2 separate regions of the Homo sapiens genome follow, and region 2 is linked to region 1. A link means that fine-mapping ties the variant in region 1 to the expression of a gene that starts in the linked region. Tissue or cell type: vagina. Region 1 holds a variant in brackets; the other region holds the start of a gene. All regions are shown on one strand. Distances are from middle to middle.

Region 1 (8,108 bases):
TAAAATCCAAAAGATATTTAATATTACTGAAGAGAAAAATGAAGGTGGAATGGAGGAGAGACACAGCTGGAGAGAGAAGCGGTGGCCAGATAACAAAGGGCTTTGCATTTTACTCTAAGAAATGTAGACATATCCTGAATGCTACAAAGATGGGAAAATGAAAAATCTTTAGCAGAGAAGTGGCACTGTAGCTGATCTTATCTGAGTTGTATTTCTTCCTTAGGACAATCTGTTTTCAAAGAACTACACTCCTTGTTTACTACCTGATTCTGCCCACCCTCAACCCTTCTGCGATTTGATTATGTGTTTCCTGTTTGGAGTTGAATAACTTATCTCTATTAAAGATTTGGGTTTCAGGCTAAGATACTATGTTTTAGGCAAGCTAAAAGATGAAAGCTATGGGGGTGGTTATGTGCCTGGAAAAGGAGAGGAAGTCAGGATGCATAGAGACAATGAATCAAATGGCAGAACTGCCGCTAAGAAAATGAAGCCTCTGGCTGGGCGTGGTGGCTCACGCCTGTAATCCTAGCACTTTGGGAGGCCAACGTGGGCAGATCACCTGAGGTTGGGAGTTCGAGACCAGCCTGACCAACATGGAGAAACCGGGTCTCTACTAAAAATACAAAATTAGCTGGGTGTGGTGATGCATGCCTGTGATCCTAGCTACTTGGGAGGCTGAGGCAGGAGAATTGCTTGAACCTGGGAGGCGGAGGTTGCGGTGAGCTGAGATCGTGCCATTGCACTCCAGCCTGGGCAACGAGAGTGAAACTCCATCTCAAAAAAGAAAAGAAAAGGAAAGAAAAGAAAAGGAAGCCTGTGTTATGACCAGGTTATGAAAAACCTAGAAAGCTCCCCACTCCCCGCCCCCACCAAAAAAAAAAAAGCTGTATCTTAATACATAGAAAATATCAAGGATGAAGGTAGGGTTTGGGCTGAAAAACAAAACTGTGAGCCAAATTCAACAAATTCAAAGTATAGATATAGCCAGCAGATGGTTGAGTAGAAATAACTAAGGTGAGATAGAGATTGGTAGAGCCAAGTATCAGCCTTAAAAAATAGTTTTTAGTAGAATTTAGGAGCATACATTGTATATAGGCAGTAATGAAAGAAAAGGTAATTATGAGATGTAAGAAAATATGAGAAAGTAAGGGGCTGAAAAATGTGCTATGTTCATGGGAAGAGCCAGGGTTTTTAAGGTTTAGTGTTGCAGAAAATAATTGTAAAAATAAAATAAATTATGAAAATATATAAAATAATTTGACCTGAAACGAGGTTTCAGAAAGCATGGTGTAAATGTTTGAGGAGACGGTAAAAACAAAAATTGGGTTAGAGAGAGGAGTTATATTGCATTAAATTTGTCTTTAGGTGGATCTCACCTTTGTGTAATAAGGAAAAGAGCAAGTATCAAGGTTGCTTATAAACTACATTTAAGTTGACAGCAAAGCATAAGTAGCTACGAAGTATTTATAGGCAAGTGTTGACCTAGAGCATGTTTTAGTTTTAATGTTGTAAAACTTGTCTCACAATGTATGAAAAGCTATTGAGGCAATAAGAATTCAGCCTTCTTATGAGCAGGTCTATTAAGGAAATGAATAAATGAATATTATATCTCTAATAGTCTTGAAGAAGATGGACCATTTTAGAGCAGTCTTGATTCTGGTGAGAAAACTGACCTCCAATCATTGGGTAGAAATGCTCCAGTGGAAATCTTACTGCTGCTGTTGATAAGCTGAGATGTGCTTTGAATCATTAGCTTTCCCCTTTGAAGAATAAATTGAATCAGGGGACTCACACAAGTAACCATCATTATATTCCTTCCAGAATGGTGGATTCTGTCTAACTAAATATTAACATCACTGCTGTTCAAAAGCTCTTGTGTAAATGCATGGTAAGATTTTTGATGGTAAAAGAAAATGGTAATTGACATTTACTGAACCCTTTCTGTAATGGAATTGTGCAACGTGTTTACGACACAATCTTATTCATTTCTCCTATCAAAACTATGGAGGCAGTTGTGGTTATGCCCATTTTATTAGTTAAGAAGTAGAGGACTAAAAGACTATGTGATTTGTCCATGGTCAGCCTGTTGAGTCAGAACTGAAGAGTTTTCACAGTTCATGACTTTTTGCAAACTGTCAGTGAGTCAATGAGAGAAGATGTGTTTTCAGCCCATGTGCAATTATATATATTTGATAATTTAGGGTTCATTTTCCAGAAGCTATCCTATATTTTTCCAGACATATACCTGAAATTTTATTAAGCTACCACCTCCATGTATGTAAGGAATATGGCCTGGATTATAAGATACTATTCTATGGTATAAATGGTCAGAATTTCCTATAGATGGGGTTCACCATGTTAAAAGTCAGCTCTTTCCCCAAATTTAAATAATAAATAATAAAAATATGTTAAAATCCTTATACTTACTAACATATTATATTATTTCACTTTGAAAAAAATTTAGAGGTTTTATGAAATAGATTGTAGGTGAAATAAATTGTCTTTCTTACCAATTTTTACCTGTGCACCATCTCCTTTTAATTAAATTATGGTTTCAAACAGAACACTGTAATGTCAATCTAAAATTTTTCTTTTTTTTTTTTTTTTTTTTGAGATGGGGTCTCGCTGTCTCCCAGGCTGGAGTGCAGTGGCGCTATCTCGGCTCACTGCAGGCTCCGCCCCTCAGGGTTCACGCCATTCTCCTGCCTCAGCCTCCCGCGTAGCTGGGATTACCGGCGCCCGCCACCTTGCCCGGCTAATTTTTTGTATTTTTAGTAGAGACGGGGTTTCACCGTGTTAGCCAGGATGGTCTCGATCTCCTGACCTCGTGATCCACCCGCCTCGGCCTCCCAAAGTGCTGGAATTACAGGCGTGAGCCACTGCGCCTGGCCTAAAATTTTTCTTAAGGTCAAAATTTCATCTAGGACACTAAAATGCCTCAAGCTTCAACTTGACTCTTCTGTCAATTTGATATCAAAAGGCGTGGAGATAGTTCTCAATTTAAAATTTCACTTTCTTTTTAATGCAAAATATTTAATCTTTTTCATCATAAGAAGAAAAGTAAATGTGCTAATTGGGTTTCTTAGAATTACTTTCAGCTTTTAAATTCTCATATCTTTCCCTACTTTTTAGAGGAGAGGGGAAAAAGTTGCAATATATCTATGCATAATGCTCAAAAGAGTAGTCTTTTCCCTATTAAGAGTAGATTTTCCAGGCAGTTTCTAGGATTGTTCAAATATCTATGATGTTTTCTGTCTACCTTCAACTGTTTTTTGTTGTTGTTGTTGCTGTCTACTAGTCTGAAGTGATTTTACTTCGTGATTTCTGACTGTGTTCATTTTTATAGAAGTAAGTCGCATTTTTCTCAGACTATTGCAAGACCTAACTTTTAAAAATATTGAAGCAAAACAATTTCAAAATAGTTCTTCAATAACATAATTTGTCTATAATGCCTAATGAATGCTTTACAAAACCATGATTCTAAACTTAAA[C/G]TCTTAGAGGCTGTTTTAAAAATTACCTAAAATTATTTTCTTTTACCAACATGGAGTTTCAGTTCTCATATGTTGGTTTTAAGTGTATCCTTTGTATTCCAAGGGTTTTCCACATATCTCCTGGAGACAATGGACATTTTTTGGTAACCTGTGTTGAGTCTTTTGTTCTTTTCTCAATTAAATGCAATATTAGGATGTTATACACGAGATAATCTTATTTGTTTTCTTGACTTGAACCAACTTAAAAAATATAAATCTAAATGATTCCCTTATTACACTATGAATCTATTCTCCTTTTTCTTGATCTGTTCTCTTTTCCTCTACTTTTGACTCCTACATTTTTAAACATCTTGCACATTCATATTCTTTAAAATAGATTAGATAAATGATAAATTGCATAAATCATTTCCTTCTTATAGAGATATTTGAGAATAATGTAACCACAGCTATTATTTAAATTGTAACATTTCCTTAATGCACATATAAAGTGGTGGGGGCATATTCCTGTCAAATACAAGAAGATTTTTATTCATCTGCACAGAGAAATAATCTCGAAGAGGGAGGGCATGAAAAATCTATAGCAGCATAGAATTCTATAGCTTCCCCTGAACCCCCCAAATTGAACAAAAATTATGTAATGGAATATACATGCTTGAATATTTGTTCCTGTGGTCATTTAATAGTCACTGCAAAGTCATTTTAATGCCCTCTGGAGATTTAGCCCACTTCTACAACCTTCAATCAATAAAAAAAGATAAATAAAAGGACCCCAAGTTTCATCAGCTTTGCTATTGCCTTACTCAGACTGCGCCAGCCTTCATGTAGCTTACTTACAGTCCAATAGGGGAGACAGATAAGTAAATAGTCTCTATCTTGTTATTGGTCTTAGTTTGTTAGACTGCTGTAACAAAATGCCTTGATAATTTATAAACAATAGAAATGGATCGTTTGCAGTTCTAGAGGCTGGGAAGTACAAGATCAAGGTACGAGTAGATTCCAGTGTCTAGTAAGCATGTGTTCCTCATAGATGATGCCATCTGTGTGTGCTGACATGGCAGAAGGGGGAAAACAGGCTTCCTCGGGCCTCTTTTATGAGGGGACTAATCCCATTCATGGAGTGTGTGTGTTGGGGGTCCACTTTCATGACCTAATCACTTCCCAAAGGCCTCACCTTTTAATACCATTGCATTAGAAATTAGGTGTCAACACATGAATTTGGAAAGGACACAAACATTTAGACCAGAGCATTGTTTATTCCCAATTTCTTGATTGTTTCCCTTCTAGTATCCCAGCTCCAAGAGGCTAGGTTCTTGCCTTATTCTCTAATCTTTCCAGAGGCTAAGGCATTGTCTATCAGACCTGCCTAAATGTCTTTTTCTATACATGCCATTCTGCTGATGGAACACGTCCCTGAGGTCTTGCTCTGTTTAACTCTTTAGATCTTTGCCTGAATCCAATGCTTCCTGAAAATGACATTCTGGCTATCCAGACCCACCTCACTACCTGTGCTGTCCTTTAACATCAGACTGGTCATCCAGGCCTCTTCATCCTTTCTCTGATTATATTGTCTTTTTCACAGGATATTTTTAAAATGGTGCAAGAATGGCTTTGAAATTTGTTGCAACATATGTTGCTCATCATTTGACCAATGAGTAGTTGTTTCTTCTAAGCAAGAGAATTAAAGAAAGATGATACATAAAGTAAAAATTATAAACTCCAAATGGAATTGCTGTAAGAGCAAAATGAAGTAGTTCACAAAAAGGTGCTACAATGTAGCACCTTTGCAAAATATAATAGTTTTACATTATTTTTGTTAACATTTAAATTTTTCATAATGATAACATAGTAAGGGTAAACATTGGCAAGTATAGAGAAATGAAATAAAACCTAAATATGTAAATGGTTACAATGTGAATTTAACTTGAGAATGAACAATTTGGAAAAAGAATAAAATATAACATAGTTGTCACTTATCAAAAATTATTTTATAAAGTTAATTGAACAGGGACTCGAACAGATATTTATACACCTATGTTCATAGAAGCATCATTCATAACAGCCAAAAGATGGAAGCAATGCAAGTGTCCATAGGTGGATAAAAAGATAAAAAATATGGTACAAACTTGCAATGAAATATTATTTATCCTTAAAGAGGAGGGAAATTCTGACACATGCTACAACATGAATATACCTTGAAGATACTATGCTAAGTGAAATAAGCCAGTCACTATAGGGCAAATATCTGATTCCACTTATAGGAGGTACCTAGAATAGCCAAATTTATAAAGACAGAAAATAGAATGGTGGTTGCCGTGGGCCAGTGGGAAGAAATGGAGAGTTATTTTTGAATGAATACAGAGTTTCAGTTTGGAAAAGTGAAAAAGCTCTGGTGTGATGGTGGCACAATAATATGAATGGATTTAATGCAACTGAACTATAGGCTTAAAAATGATTAAAATGCCAAGAAAATGATGGCAAGCCATAGACTGGGAGGAAATATTTGCAAAAGATATGTAATAAAAGATTTTTGTCCAAAACATACAAAGAACTCTGAAAATTTAACAAGAAGAAAATTAATAATGCAAAAAAATGGTAAAGACCTGAACAGACGCCCCACCAAAGAAGATATACAGATGACAAATCAGCATATGAAAAGATGTTCAACATCACATGTCACTAGGGAATTGCAAATTAAAGCAAGAATGAGCTACCACTCCACACCTATTAGAATAGCCCAATCCAAAACACTATTGCGGAGAATGTGGAGGAACAGAAACTCCCATTCACTGCTGGTGGGAATCAAAATGGTACAGCTACTTTGGAAGATGGTTTGGCAGTTTCTTGCGAAACTCCTTGCAAAGTCTTCAAAATGATCCATAGAGAAGAAAAATACATTAAAAATACAGGAAGCAGTATAAGTAGGAAACATTCGGCATGTGATAAAATCTAACATGTATAATTGGAGAGAGAAAATGGAAGAGAGTGAGTTTTTAAAGAAACTCTGACTCAGAATTTCTCAAACTGATGTAACACATCGAATAACATGATCCAAGAAGCTCTCTGTTCCCCTACCTTCCAGTGTATTAAAAAAATTGAAATGAATGCTTTACCTCAAACGAAATGCAATAAATAAGACATCTAAAAGAAAATTTAGGAGATGATATTCTTCACCTTAGAGTTGGCAAAGATGCTTTAGATGGAACACAAAATCCTAACAATTAAAATAATTGGTAAATTGGACTTCATTAATATCAAGTGCTTCTGTTCACTAAAAGTTGCCTTAAAGAGAGTAAAAGACAAGCTGCGCACCAGAAGATATTAGCAATGCATTACTGTAACAATAAACTCATATTCCAAAATTTTAAAATGCCACAAAAACTCCACAAGGCACTCATTGAAAAACAAAACATTGCAATTAAAAATGTTTTAAAGAAACAAAGGACTGGCTGGGCGCAGTGGCTCACGCCTGATAATCCCAGCACTTGGGTTGCATGTGCATAAATGCTAAGTGAACCTTGGGGTAACTCATACCTCAGTGGCACCAGGGCAGTGCCAGAATATGAGATAAAGGTGCATGGCATGATGTGATGTAGGAACTGTTGGAGAATTCATGTGAACAATAGGAGTAACTAGGAGTAATCTGCAAGGCAGGCTATAGGTCTGTAGTGAAGATGGTGGCAGCAAGTGGAAATCTGGCTGCAGGACCATGGAACTGATGTAAACAGCTGCTAATGCTCACTCTGGCCCAAAAGCAAAGCAAGTGCATGAATTTGGGTGTCACATAAACAAAAACTGCCTTTCAGATCCATTCATTCTTCTAATGACATATATCCATGTCTTTCCTAAGGTAAAGATGCTCTCATTTCTCCCTGGGATGTAATGTACAAATCTAATTTATCAACATTTCAACCTTCAAAAAAAGCCTTTAAAAGGGTCAGCAAAGCAAGCTCTGGTACCCACTGTTGCAGTTGGTTCCTGGTCTGTAAGTGATACTCATCATCTTTCTCCACTGTCTCCCTCTTTAGATTTCTTTCATCCTCAGCTAACATTCTTGCTTGGTGGACTGCCAGCCTAGTGGGAAAACCCAGATCTTCATCCCCAAGAGGTCTCAGCCCATAGTTGTCTTGCCCTTGTCAAGCTGTTATTGTTACAACTGCCCATTTATAGTTTTCAACTGATGTAGGAGTCCCAAGAGACAACACAGTTAATCCCTTGAATTCTAGATACTCATCCCTAAGTCCAATGTGTAGCAACCACCCTAGCTTCTTCATGGTGATTGGGCTTGATTACTCCCACTAGTATAGTAACTCCTGTCTTTGCCTTAAAAAAGGCCAGATGGTGGCTGCAACCTCTAATTTGGTGTAACTTATTTTGCATTGGCAAAAGTTTTCTTTCAAGTAAGGTGGCTCGGTAGATAATTGTGCATTCCAGAAGTTAGTATCCCAACCCCACAGGAGTTGTATAAAATAATTTCTATAAGAATGTATTACTGCCCTTTTAAAAGTGAAAAGACACAAAATTGATCTGTTACCAAATGGCTAACTGGACTCCCTGAGGAGTGCAACCACAGTGCTCAATCTTGGTCTCTGCTGCCAGCAGGTTGAGCATTCAGCAGGA
Region 2 (8,108 bases), 750 kb before region 1:
CAATAAAAAAATAGGTAATAAAACTTCCTTTTAGTTTGAACCTCAAATTAGATCTATGTAGAATAGCATATTTCATAGAACCTCTATGGAAGTAGGGTAGAACTAGAAAATGTGAGAAGGAAATGTCACAGGAATTAGCTTTAAGATAATAAATCAAAGTCTCATATACATTCATGGCCCTATCAGGATTGACTGTCCTACTTTGCAGGTTCCTCAGCATTGTGCTCCACTAACTTAAGTGAGGATAGAGCAGACATACTGCTGTCTACCATCAGCTACTCAGAAAAAAGTGAATGCCTCAGAAGAGTCATAATCAGAAGTTTTTTTTTATTTTTATTTTTTTTTGAGATGGAGTCTCACTCTGTCACCGAAGCTGGAGTGCAGTGGCATGATTGCAGCTCAATGCAATCTCTGCTTCCTGAGTTCAAGCAATTCTTCTGTCTCATCCTCCCGAGTAGCTGGGACTACAGGCACACACCACCACGCCTGGTTAATTTTTGTATTTTTAGTAGAGACGGGGTTTCACCATATTGGGCAGGCTGGTCTCGAACTCCTGAGCTCGTGATCCACCTGCCTCGGCCTCCCAAAGTGCTGGGATTACAGGCGTAAGCCACCATGCCCAGCCATAATCAGAAGTTACTACTCAACCGTAATGTCCAAATGATAATAAATTCATCCAAGAACCAAATACAAGTTCAAAATTTTGAAAGCCTGTTATTTTCAAAACAGAATATAACATACAATATTTTATTTTATTTTTAAAACTAAAACATCTGATAAAGCACTTAATAGTATACTAAAATGTACTTAATTTACTGTGATTTGCACCAATGGAAGCTTGCTCTGTGGAGCACTTAAATGCACAGATGACTCCAAATCCACAATATTTTCTTTTTTTGCCCACATATTTATCTTCATAATTACTTTTGATAAATCTAATAGTTTTTCTTCTCCAATAGAAAGAGGAAGTAGCACCTTATACATAAATGTTTGCAAATATAATATATATCTAATGATCATATAACAAGACTTTTAAATCCTTGAATGAAGGAACAAAATCTCTGAATCCTTCTTTACTCCCTACATTTTATGCATCATGTAGCATAGGGCACAGAACAGGTGTGGTCAAAGAATATTCATTAACAGAGAATTAAGATTTGATGCTCATGTATTAAAAGAAGTAAGAGTATTTTTAGTCTTCTGGTAGTTCTCTTATATTACAGTAAAACAATAATTCTAGGTTTTGCTAAGGAATGTACTTTTGGAACTAACATATTACTTTCGTATATTAATTTGGTAATATTAACTAGTCTAACAAACATATCTCCACATTGTAATGGAGTAACACAATAAATGAGTAAAGCCTAATGCCTATTTTCTTAGTAACTGGGTAGTATTCCTCTATGTGGTAATTAAGGGACTCTCGTCTTTGTCTCTGGGGTTCTGCCTGCCCTGGGTCTTAGAAGTCTCTGCATTCCGCTAAGGATGGGAGCCCATAGACTAGAAAATGTATATCTACTGCTTAACTGCCTTGTCCTGAGAGTGACCAACCATCTTAGTCCACAGTCCATTGATCAGAACTGGTCACATGGACCTTCTTCGAGGAAAGAAGGGTCAGGCTAGAAATGGGAATCCCTCTCTGGGCAGACACTTCCCAGAGTGAATTATACTAAGGGAGGGAAAACACATTTTTTTGGTAGACAAAAAGTTGTCTTTTTTCAAGCTTTTCCCCCCTCCTATTTCTTGATAAGCAGGACATTGCCAAAGTCAGCATCTGGGAACTGAAGTAACCCCTTCAAAATGTAAATTCCAAATATAAAGTATTCTCATGCAAGCAGTAATATAATTATGGACTGCTAGGGCAGTCTAACACGGAGGTTCCCAACCCCTGGGCCACAGAACAGTACCAGTCTGTGGCCTATTAGGAACTGGACTGTACAGCAGGAGATCTGCAGCAGAGTGAGCAAACATTACTGCCTGAGCTCTACCTCCTGTCAGATCAGCAGTGGCATTAGATTCCCATAGGAGTGCAAACCTTACTGTGAACCGTGCATGCAAGGGATCTAGCTTGCCCGCTCCTTATGAGAATCTAATGCTTGACGATCTGAGGTGGAACAGTTTTATCCTGAAACCACCCCCAACCACCATCCATGGGAAAATTGTCTTCCGCGAAACCAGTCCCTGGTGCCAAAAAGGTTGGGGATCTCTGGACAGGACAGAAAAAGAATGGCAGTAGGAGAGGGTAGGACATCTGAAACAGTAACCGAATAAAAAAGATGATCTGTCTGTCTACTTCAGGAGGTCAGGTGTATGAACACAAGTAGTCCCTAGTTAATATGCTGCCGTCCTGTTTCCTTAGAGCAGGATCCAATTTTGTTTAAGAGGTGTCAGTGTTGCAGCAGTTATGGAATCATACACAGGCATTAAAAGTTCATGTTGATAATGTGTTGGGAAGTGATTGTGAGTCATAACTTTTTCTTCCCATACATACCTTAGCTAGGAGGTGTCCTAGACTTGTAGCGGACTAAAGGGTGTGCCTGAAAGGTGTGCCTTTATTTCCTATCTGTATCATGTAATTTTATATGGTGCTGACATTTTAAGCCTTCTGATCTTGGTTCAAAGATGTTTATCCTATACCTAGTAAAAAGTTATTCCAAATAAAGGTGGGAACTTCATTTTTTTCTAATATGTAGGAGAGAATGTCTTGGCCTTGGAAATGAGCATCCCTGGACATGGTTTCCTGGTCTTTCTGAAGCAGGCCCTCTTCACCCACAGGTCTTGGCATCGCTCCCTGTGTGCCATCTGGCCAGGGACCAACTTCCCAAATCTGCCTTAGCAACTAGCTCTGCCCGTGCTCAGGAGGCTGTTTCCAACAACCCCTTCCTGAGATTACAGTGACCTCTCAGAGCTCATAATTTTATGTTCTCTGAAAATTTTAGGCTTTATTGAGGGCAAGGACAATTTTCAAATACACTCCCTCCCCACCTAATTACCCACCACAAAGTCTGGCATATAAATAAAAGGAGTACAGAAAATATCTTTATTGAATGAATTGTCTAATTGCCACCCAGTATCCTGGGGTTGGAAATTGGGCAGCAGAATCTCAGTGCCAGTGGCAGCCTCCCTATCTTGGTGGGACACACCCTGCGTCTGCTCCTTTTGCTAGGCCTCCACAGAGGTATCTAGTGTGTGTTTCTATTCCGTGCAGTCCACATCAAAGTCACGCTGCAGCACAATCAGTCTCTTACTCAAAATTGATTTTCAAGTTTGAGCTTTAATCTAATCCTTGTCTCCAAAACATTTCTTTTGGCTTCATCTCCCAGCTCCCTAAACTTTTTTTTTTGTTTTTGTTTTCTTTGTGTGTGTGTGTGTGTGTGTGTGTGTGTGTGTGTATTTTAAACCTTTTATTGGACCCGTGGTCCAATTGAGGAAATAGGAAAAACCTGATACTGAAGGACTTTGGAAATAAAACAGGAAACATGAAGGGTGAGAAATTTATTCAGATTTCTTCATAATTCCCCCCAAAAGCTCCAACCACGTTGCCAGTCCTTGGGTGCTGCAGTTGGTCGGGGAGAGGGGCTGTGTGGAGGTCACCTTCTGGTAGACGGAGACCCGCTTTTCAGACTCTGTGGCGCAGCAGGCGGGCCAGGAACATTTGGGCCACTATTGCTCTTAGCCCTGCCGCGCCTGACTTTCTCTCCTCTACTTTCCTTCCGACCGTAGGGACAAGTGTGGGGATCCGCTTTGGGCTCCAAGGCCCTGCCCGCACTGGCAGCACCAAGCGGGTGTAGAATGACTGGAAGGAGCAGGGAAGGAAGATGGGTGTCAACTGTCCCGGCCAGTGGCTGCGTGCATGTGTGTGTGAACAGGGAAAAGGCCACCCTCTCCCATGTTTCTCCCGTCTCCTCGGTTCTCCTCGGAGACCCGCAGGGCTGCCCGAGGTAGCTCCGAGTTGCCCTGGGTCGCTGGGGCTTGGTCCGCATCCTCCTCCGCTAGTCCGCTCCCGCGTTCCACAGCGCCCCGCCGCTCGGTGTGCACGCCTGGGTGGGACACAGTAACAGCCCCTAAGCCGCCAACGCAAAAGCAAAAACAACCGTACACCGCATCGCAGTCGTAGCTCTTCTCCGCAAGGTAAGTTGTTTATTCGTCGCCGTTTTGGCGATCCTCCCTGGACAGCTGCGGCAGCGACGGCAGCTGCGCCGCGGGCGCCGAGCTCCCAGCCTCTTCCTTCCTCCGCCCTCTCAGGGCTGCCTCTCACCCCCACCCTCTTCCCTCCTATCCCCGCCTTCTCTCTTCTTGCCCTCTTGTGGGCCACGCACACACCCGGAGACACCCTCTGCACTTGGCTACTCACACTGCGGCTTAACCCAGCCGACAAGGCACGCTTGCCAAAGAGGCGCGGGTGTGTGTGTGCGGGGTCCGCGTTCGGAGGCCAAAGGAGGGTGGCGTGGTAGAGCCCTTCTCCTCCTGGCCGCGACGCCTTGCCCACTCTCCTGCCCTAATCTCGGCCTGCCAGCAAAAGTGACACCTGAGCAGGGACTGGTCCGTAGAGGCGGCAGGCCCGCTGGTCCGGCAGCTGGAAGAAAACAGAGCAAGGGGCGGGGACAATGAGGAGGAGCGGGAGGCGGGACAAGCGGGGAGGCCGCCACCTGGCACTGAGTGATGCGCCCTCTAGCCAATGAACGCGAGGAACTCCGGCGTCGGGGCGGGAGGTCGGGGGCGGGCTCAGTGGGGAGGAGGAGGCTGCAGGCGCGCAAGAGGCGGGGGCCGGGAGGAGGAAGGGGAGGAGGCGGAGGCGGGCGCGGTGTTGGCGGCGGCGGCGGCGGCGGAGGGGGGTAGGTTGTGCCCGGGACTGTGTCTGCCGAGCTCGGCGGCTGTGCCTTGGTGAGTGGAGGAGCGGCGCGGGGAGGCAGAGGCGAGCGCGGGCGATCGCGGCGGCGGGACGTCTCCGGCGGCCGCGGCACCAGCGGCGGCGCTCTGTGTGGAGAAGCAGGGGCAGCGGCAGCAGCAACAGCGGCAGCGGCAGCAGCAGCGGCAGCAGCGGCGGCCGCCTCTCCGCCGCCGGGGACGCCAAGGTGCGGCTGGTGGCACTGACATCGGCGGCCCTGCCTCTCCTCCCTCGCCCCCGGCCTTCCCCATGTGATCGGTCTTAATCCTGGCCGTGTGTGCGCGCGTGGGGCTCCATTCCGCGGTGCTGGGTCTCCGTGCCGGGGTGGGTGCTCGTGTGTGCGCTTCTCCTCCCCATCCCCCTTCCCCCAAGAATAAAAGAAGAACCGGGAGGCGTGCTCAGAAAATAAATAAATAACCACCACACACGCGCAGCCCGGAGCGAGTCGGCGGGGCTGGCGGCAGCGGCGGAGGAGGAGTGAAGGCGGCGGCGGCGGAGGAGGGACGCGCGGAAAAGGCAGCAACTTTAAAGCCAGCTCAGAGCCTAGACCTCCAGCCGAGCGGTTTGCAGCGCGGCGGCGGCGGCGGCGGCGGCGGCGTTGAGTGTCTGGCCCGCCGGTCCGGTCGGGGTGTGCAGTCGGACGGACGAGCAGCGCGTCGCTGTCCTCCGGCAGCTGGAGATGTCCGAGCCCAAGGCAATTGATCCCAAGTTGTCGACGACCGACAGGGTGGTGAAAGGTAAGCGGAGCGCCGCGGTGGCCTGGGTGCACCGTGTGCCGCAGGCGCCAGGGCAGCTTGCCTCGCCTCGCCTTTCCTCCCCTCCCCCGCCCCAGGTTCTCCTCTGTCCGCTCCAGCCGCGGACCTTCTAGGATATTGTGCAACCCGCGAACCCCGCGAACCCCCCGCCCCCGCGGCGCCCTTCCCCCACGCGTCCCACCCAGCCTCACTTGGGGCATTTTTATTGACGGGGGCGTCAGTTGGCAAATGGCTGAGCCGCGGGGAGGTGGCGGCGGGGGTGGCGGTGGTGGGAGGGGGCGCCCGGGGGGTGGTTGCTGGTAGGGTGTAGCTGCTGTGACAGAAATAGGAAGTGGGTGGCTCTGCTCACAGGCTTGCATGGGATCGGGTTTATGGTTTTCTTCTGCAGAGGGAGGGGTGATTGATGGCTTTTTAAAAATTAATACGGCATTTTTATGTGGCCGTGGCTTTCCACCGACTGCCTCACTTGGGCAGGGTTGTCTTGGAGCTCCATTGCAGCAATTCCCTCCGCGCCCCCCTCCCCCTCCCCCTCCCCCTGGAAGGGCCTGCACAGGACTCGCGAGAGAGCGGGAGAGCGTGGGGGGAGCCCGGCGCTTCCTTCCGCGCGGGGCGGGGGCGGGGGCGGTCGCTGGCTGGAGGGTGGCCGCGGGGGGCGCGGGAGGCGGGGAACGACCTGAGAGCACCAGCCGTTGCCGCCCCGGGATTTCCCCCGCACGCCCCGGGGAGAGACACGAAAACCACTTCTCCAGCCTCTCTTGCCATCCCCGGCTGTCCCCCGCCGACCTGTCATTGCTCTTAAAGGGTTCTCCACTCGTGCACACCTCCCAAGTGATAACCTCATTCCGCCTGCTTCCTCCGTGCCCTGGCATCCTTTTTGTAACGGGCTGTTGGATTCCTATTATTGCCTCCTCTTCGCCGCCTACGGGATGATAAACTCCTGGCAAGGATGCACTGAGGTTGCTGGCAAAGAGAAACTGGGATGTGCGGAGTGAGGAAGGGGACAGGCTGTGGTTGATCACTCTGTCGCACGGGAATCTATCGGCCTCCTTGTATTCCTAGGTGTAGTGGGGGAGGAACCATCCTATGAATCCTGGAAGGCTGAGGCAACAGAGCAGAACCACTTGGATTAAGTAGTATCTCACATTCCTGGGGGTCAGGACACCAAGCAAAGCAGAGATGGGCATGAGCTGTGCGGGGAGCGGGCCTCTGAAATTGGAAACAGCACTGGCTGGTGTAATGTGTGTGTGTTGTGTGTAGAACAGAGATGGTATCTAATGTGGCCAGAGCATGCAACTAGAGTGCAAGGCAATCAAGTCGTTTGCACCATGAGCACTTAAAAGTGAAGTAACCCAGCAGCCCAAAGACCATGATACACAAGTCCCTCTGGGGTTTCAGAAATGATTCTTTCTCCTTAGAGGTTTACTCAGTTTTTAAAGTAATTTTTCTGTGTGAGTGGTGGTGGTGATGGGGGAAATTACGTTCCCTTTTTTCAGAAAGAACAAAATATCTTCTTTTGTTTTGGTTTTACTGGAATCATTCCTGCTTCAGCTTCGGTGCAGGATTCATATACCCATGAAAATAATGAGGAAATAGCTCTGCAAAAATGATTCGAAATAGGGCTGCAGAGAGATGCACAGCTATTTTATTTTTCCTGCAGGCATGGATTTTCATGGAAACAGTCCATTCACATTTATTTGAGAGAGCTGTGTTTTGCATGAAAGGCTTCTGTTGACATTTTCAAAAATTGAGACCCTTTGCAGAAATATCAGAGAATGACAATTATCTCCTTAATGTGTGAAGTTTAGATGTAGCTCCAATCTAGGTTAAGATCAAAACAATGTAAAGCTTATAATTCAAATGATACTAGTGAACGTGTTGGCAATTAAAAAAACACTTGTGCACACATAAGGTCACATTCCCTGTTTTAAATCATAGGATGTGGATTCTTAATGTAGGTGTAAAGTCATCAGGTGAACATGTAAAAATAAATGTTTATACTTTCTGGCTTAGTTTCTCTACTGCTTAAAATGGAAGAGCCCACTCAACCATTCCAAGGCTACTTTGCCTTGCTTTTTTTCAATACTGTACCATTATAAATGACTTTTCATTTTAGGTACACACACTCACCCATAATTTAAAAAATTTTATTCACATACTATGTGGATAGTAGACTCAAAATAGGAAAAGTTAATTTTGCATTTGTTTTGATAGAGATCCTGATGTGAGATGTGAAATGTGAAATTTTGTTTATAGAAGTTTTGTTGATGAATCCTGATTTTAAGGTGGATACACTGTTATTGTTTATCCTGTTTTCTTGTAGAATATTATTGGCATGAAAGGCATTATACAAGGTTGGATTCAACCTTTTGTCATACATAAGATTTTTATTATTAGTTATTTGAGATAATCTATTTTGATTATTAGCTTTCTGTGAAATAATATTTCCCCTTGAGTATGTATACACG

Direction of the effects. Positions count from the first base shown, and alleles are read on the strand shown. Sizes are in standard deviations (SD) of each study's normalised expression.
With allele G in place of C in region 1, the expression in vagina of the gene that starts at base 4,838 in region 2 is lower (large effect, 1.5 SD a copy in GTEx).

Evidence for each region. PIP is the estimated chance that this variant, and not a neighbour inherited with it, causes the effect.
Region 2: PPP3CA starts here. The variant in region 1 is fine-mapped to the expression of PPP3CA in vagina (GTEx, PIP 0.90).

What each region holds. Positions count from the first base shown.
Region 1 is chr4:100,595,526-100,603,633 of GRCh38, reverse strand. No RefSeq gene overlaps it. Among named protein-coding and RNA genes, the nearest start is that of LINC01216, 76 kb to the left of the region's middle. The variant C/G (reference allele first, on the strand shown) is at 3,492.
Region 2 is chr4:101,344,256-101,352,363 of GRCh38, reverse strand. PPP3CA (protein phosphatase 3 catalytic subunit alpha) reads left to right here and starts at 4,838. Exons shown (of 14, transcript NM_000944.5): 1 at 4,838-5,625. The coding sequence starts at 5,568. PPP3CA-DT (PPP3CA divergent transcript) reads right to left here and starts at 4,587. Exons shown (of 2, transcript NR_033874.1): 1 at 4,355-4,587; 2 at 3,481-4,040. RefSeq lists silencers at 4,603-5,212, 5,683-6,042, 6,063-6,452.